Regions from separate parts of the Homo sapiens genome. Here region 2 is linked to region 1. The links come from fine-mapping of genetic effects on gene expression. Tissue or cell type: whole blood. Region 1 holds a variant in brackets; the other region holds the start of a gene. All regions are shown on one strand. Distances are between the middles of the regions.

What was found. PIP is the estimated chance that this variant, and not a neighbour inherited with it, causes the effect. A credible set is the group of variants that fine-mapping cannot tell apart.
Region 2: SKOR1 starts here. The variant in region 1 is the best candidate, but not a certain one, in a credible set for the expression of SKOR1 in whole blood (TOPMed, PIP 0.54).

Annotation. Positions count from the first base shown.
Region 1 is chr15:67,783,134-67,785,633 of GRCh38, forward strand. The region is part of intron 21 of MAP2K5 (mitogen-activated protein kinase kinase 5); the gene reads left to right. Among named protein-coding and RNA genes, the nearest start is that of SKOR1, 41 kb to the right of the region's middle. The variant A/T (reference allele first, on the strand shown) is at 1,012.
Region 2 is chr15:67,824,375-67,827,388 of GRCh38, forward strand. It overlaps SKOR1 (SKI family transcriptional corepressor 1), which reads left to right and starts at 1,135. Exons shown (of 9, transcript NM_001365915.1): 1 at 1,135-1,335; 2 at 1,562-3,014. The coding sequence starts at 1,229. It overlaps LOC124903570, which reads left to right. Exons shown (of 4, transcript XM_047433429.1): 3 at 265-1,028; 4 at 1,139-1,210. The coding sequence ends at 1,210. RefSeq lists an enhancer at 2,403-3,014.

The sequences.
Region 1 (2,500 bases):
TTTATGTCTTAGCATCTGCTCTGTGCCCAGCATCCTGCCTGACACCGAGGAGGCAGCATGTCAGCCCCAAGTCCTGACCCCCCAGCCAGCTCACAGTCCAGTGAGGAAGGTGAGGGTAGACACAGCCAAGCACAGGATAGAATGTGAGAATTGCCAGAGACCCCCGCTCACCTTCTCCTCCCACCCTCACCTACCCCTTCACCTCAGGCCACTCCTGTGGAGTCCTGTGCTCCAAACTTCTGGCAGTCCCCAGATGCGTGAGGCATCCTCACACAGTCATGTCTTTGCTTGTGCTGTTTTCTCACCGCCAGATGGTGAACTTCTCCACCTCCGAAACCCAACTGGCACAACCTCTGTGAAGCTTTGCTAAGCGTGCTTCAGTTGGGTTGAGGACTTCCTTTTGCCTGTCACCCTTCACCCTGGCTAATACTTCTGTTAGTGCACTCGTCACGCTTTGTGGCAGTAACTTGTGGTAACAGTCAATAAAAGAGACCACAACCCCTCGAGGAAGAGATCATGTCTTATCTTTGTATCCTTAGCATCTAGCCCAGTCTCCAGCCTGAGTAGAATGCTCAAATATATGGTCATTGAATTTAAATGATATGAATTTAACAAGTGAAATGAATTTCTGCTAGGGGTATCTGGGGAGGCTTTGAGAATGGAGTGACAGGTGAGCTGGGACCCACGGACATTTGGGTATTTATGTGAGTATATTACTTTTCTGCACACAGATGTGAAAGGCAGCTTATATCATAAGTAAAAGTACCAGAGCCTCTAATAGCCACACTAGCCAGTATTCATACTACAATTTATTTTCTCTAAACAAACTTGAAGAGATTGAAGTAACAATTGCACCTAACTTGGGGCTGAAGATGAATCCAGAAAGGATCCTGTTTTATAATCTTTAAAAAATTGATTTATTATATAGAGAGAAATGGATCTAAACATAAAACATTTTAAACACTTAAGTTAGAGCATTCTTTCATCTAAGTTATCTCATTTGACCTTCAC[A/T]TGAACACTATAAGGATTATTCTTATTCCCATTTTACTGATGCATAAACTGGGTCTCAGAGAGGTTAATTTCCTTGCCTAGAGTCACACAGCCAGGAAAAACACAGGACTGTCCTACTGCACAACATCAAAGCTACACCCGTTGTTGCATAGTAGGCAGAGGATTGTTATTGTGGTTTAGAGAATTTCCGCTAAGTCAAACTATTTCTTGCAGTTAGAAAAATAAAGCTAAATACAAATACAGGACCACACAAACAAACTTGTAGGATTTCAGCAGAGTGTGCTTGTGAAGCCAATGCCCCTGTAGGATGCTTTGCTCAACTCCCTCCCTATGGTCCCTTCCACCTTGATGCCACAGGCTGCATCTGCAGGGCCGTGGTCGAGGCAGAGAGCAGATGGCTGCACACACTCTCCACCCATCCCCAGGTGGCAGGGTGGCCTGGTTGAAGCCTGAGCCTCAGTAGAGACAAAACACAAAAGAGGAAGTAATTACCAACAGTTTGCACCTGGTCTGTTAGTTGGTTATCTGAGGGGAAGCTGTGAGAATTTATGTAATCATTGTTTCTTTGGTTTTGGCAAAAACTGAGGGCAGAGTGTGTCCTGACAGCTGTCTGGTCACAAACCTTTCTGCCTTTCCACTTCTGCCATCATGGGTATAGAAATGGGCAACTTCCAAGAGATGATGTTCCTCAAGTTTGGGAGAAATTACCTTTAACTCAACAAACTTTTTACTGAGCACATTCGTGTTTAGCTGAACTCGGAGTATGGGCTGTGCACCAGTGGTAGTATCTGAACTGTTTGTTGTTTTTTCCCTGAGACAGGGTCTTACTGTGTCACCTAGGCTGGAGTGCAGTGACACGATCTTGGCTCAGTGCAGCCTCAATCTCCCAGGCTCAGGTGATCCTCCTACCTCAGCACCCGCCCTTCCTTGAGTAGCTGAGACTACACATGAACAACACTATGGCTAATTTTTGTATTTTCAGTAGAGACGGGGTTTCCCCATGTTGCCCAGGCTGGTCTCAAACTCCTGACCTCAAGTGATCCGCCTGCCTGGGCCTCTCAGAGTGCTGGGATTACAGGTGTGAGCCACCGTGCCCGGCCCCGAACTGTTTCTTAAACACAGGAAGATAAGGAATTTGTGCCAGGATATAAATCAAGCCTGTCTGAAAGCATTCTGTTTAGTTCAGTTCAGCTTTTTGGAGCAAAACGTTGTGAGCGAAGAAAGCTGTTTGCGGTTCACATTGCAGCATGGCTACTTGTATCATTGCAGGCCAGCAGCAAGCAGTTCACAGGACGACTACTTGAGTGGCACAGCTGTAGGGAATACAGAGGGCTATCAGACACTAATCCAGCAAACACAAATCCATCATACATGCAAACAAAGTAGTCAGGTCACACAAACAGGAAGCCAAACAATCGGGGTCCATCTTGAAGGGAGAGGGGAAACAGCAAGGAGAAGACAACCCACAGATGTCCACACCAACACAGGT
Region 2 (3,014 bases), 41 kb after region 1:
GACAGATAAGATCGACAAATGAGGGTCTCCTAGACAAATAGAGAAGAAGGGAGAGAGACAGATAAACAGAAGATTCCAGTCTCCTTGCTGAAGGCTTTTGAACTGGGATCCCCTGTCTGGAGCTGCCCCTCTGAAAACGGAGTTACATTCAGGGCCGACTGCAGGGGAGGAGCCCTCAGGGTTGGGCTGCCCTGGCCGCAGGAGCGCCTGCAGCCTTGGGCCGGATGGGAGCCTGGCTTGTCTGAGGACATGTGGCTGGGTCAGGCGACCTAGAGGGCCCCAAACATCAGTCCCCAAGTACCCCCGCTGCTGAGGTCTGCCTGCACAGCTCCCTCCCTGCCTCAGCCAGAAAGCAAAGTGCAAGGACCAGCAGCAACTTGTGTGCCTGGAGCCTTGCAATGGCTACGAAGATGGCTGAGATTCCTTCTAGCCCATATGAGCCGGGACAGCGAGGCATGAAGGATACTCAGAGAGGTGATGCCCCTCAAAGAGGAAGCCCAGAGCCCCGAATCCTGCAGTTGGCCCGAGTGGGAAACGTATATCTGAAGGAGGAAAGCTCAAGGAGTGGGCGACTGGAAGCTAAGAAGTGGATCCCAACAAAGTTCCTTGAGAACCTCTCTGTCCCACACGTTGACCTCGGTGGAAACCAGCTTTGGTCTGGAATACAGCTAAAAATGCAGAAAATGTGGTTAGAACTGCAGGATCCTGGTCTCACTAATAGCTGGAAAGAAAACGGTTTATATATCCAGCCGAAATCTTTCTGCTCAACGAACGCGGGCGCCAGCCGTGAGAGGAGAAGCTCGGGTTTGTGGAAACTGGCAATGTTGTCCCCTGAAGCCGGCTCGGGCACCAAGCTGGGTGCGGTGGGGGCCGCGCTAGGTCCGGGTGCGCACCGAGCGCTTTGGAGAGGGTCAGGTTCAGCACCGCGAACAGCGGTAGCCTCCGCCTCTCTCCTTCCCTGGCAGACACGGTTCCCTCCTCCTTCTCCTCACCCCCCTCCTTCTCTTCACCCCCCTCTACCCCCTGCTGTCTGGAGATGGGCAGTGACCGCCCCTCCCCCCTCCCCACCCCTCCTTGCACTGCCCCCGCCCGCCCGCGTGCATGCGCGACTGAGCAGAGGGGCGGCCGATCCCCGAAGTCCGGGCTTCAGGACCCGGGCCGGCAGCACCGGCTGCGAGGGTTGCCGAAGGCGCACGGATCTGGGCGCTGAAAAAGCCAGGATTTGGCAATGGCTTTGCTGTGTGGCCTTGGGCAAGTCACTCTGCGTATCTGGGTTTCACTTCCTTCCCAATCCGAAAACGGGATTGGGTTCCTTGCAGCCCGGGCATTCCTGAGGTCTCCTTTACCCCTTCTCCTCCCCCAAGCCCCGGGGGCTGTTGTTAACGGCGCCAACATGGGTCTGAGTAACAAAAGACGCCTGTCCAGGGGGTGAATGAGTTTGGACTCCCCACTGCCAAGTATCCCCCGCGCGCCCAACTCGGAGCGCCCTGCTGGGCGGGCCCGAGCCTCGGCGGCGGCGCTGAAAATGGCTCATCTGCTCTCTGCTTTCTCTATTTCGCAGGAGCGGCGGCATGGAGGCTCTCACCACTCAGCTGGGGCCGGGGCGCGAGGGCAGTTCCTCGCCCAACTCCAAGCAGGAGCTGCAGCCGTACTCGGGCTCCAGCGCTCTCAAACCCAACCAGGTGGGCGAGACGTCGCTGTACGGGGTGCCCATTGTGTCGCTGGTCATCGACGGCCAGGAGCGCCTATGCCTGGCGCAGATCTCCAACACCCTCCTCAAGAACTACAGCTATAATGAGATCCACAACCGCCGCGTGGCCCTGGGCATCACGTGCGTGCAGTGCACGCCGGTACAGCTGGAGATTCTGCGTCGGGCCGGGGCCATGCCCATCTCGTCGCGCCGCTGCGGCATGATCACTAAGCGAGAGGCCGAACGCCTGTGCAAGTCGTTCCTGGGCGAGCACAAACCACCCAAGCTGCCCGAGAACTTCGCCTTCGATGTGGTGCACGAGTGCGCGTGGGGCTCGCGTGGTAGCTTCATCCCTGCGCGTTACAACAGCTCTCGTGCCAAGTGCATCAAGTGCGGCTACTGCAGCATGTACTTCTCGCCCAACAAGTTCATCTTCCACTCGCACCGAACACCCGACGCCAAGTACACGCAGCCCGATGCCGCCAACTTCAACTCCTGGCGTCGTCACCTCAAACTCAGTGACAAGTCGGCCACAGACGAACTGAGCCATGCTTGGGAGGACGTCAAGGCCATGTTTAATGGCGGCACGCGCAAGCGGACCTTCTCCCTACAAGGAGGCGGCGGAGGCGGTGCCAATGGCGGGTCGGGTGGGCAGGGGAAGGGTGGTGCTGGCGGCGGTGGCGGCGGTGGCCCAGGGTGCGGTGCAGAGATGGCCCCAGGCCCGCCGCCCCACAAAAGCCTGCGCTGTGGCGAAGATGAGGCTGCCGGGCCTCCGGGGCCACCTCCACCCCACCCGCAGCGCGGACTTGGCCTGGCGACTGGAGCTAGTGGCCCGGCGGGCCCAGGAGGGCCCGGTGGCGGCGCCGGCGTACGAAGCTACCCGGTGATCCCGGTGCCCAGCAAAGGCTTTGGGCTCCTGCAAAAGCTGCCCCCACCACTTTTCCCCCATCCTTACGGCTTCCCTACGGCCTTCGGCCTATGCCCCAAAAAGGACGACCCGGTTTTAGGCGCGGGCGAGCCAAAGGGCGGTCCTGGCACTGGGAGCGGCGGCGGCGGCGCGGGGACAGGCGGGGGTGCGGGGGGCCCGGGAGCCAGCCACTTGCCCCCGGGGGCAGGGGCGGGCCCGGGCGGCGGCGCCATGTTCTGGGGGCATCAACCCTCCGGGGCAGCCAAGGACGCAGCGGCAGTGGCTGCAGCGGCCGCCGCCGCCACTGTGTACCCGACGTTTCCCATGTTCTGGCCAGCAGCAGGCAGCCTCCCGGTACCGTCCTACCCCGCTGCTCAGAGCCAAGCCAAGGCCGTGGCGGCAGCCGTGGCGGCGGCA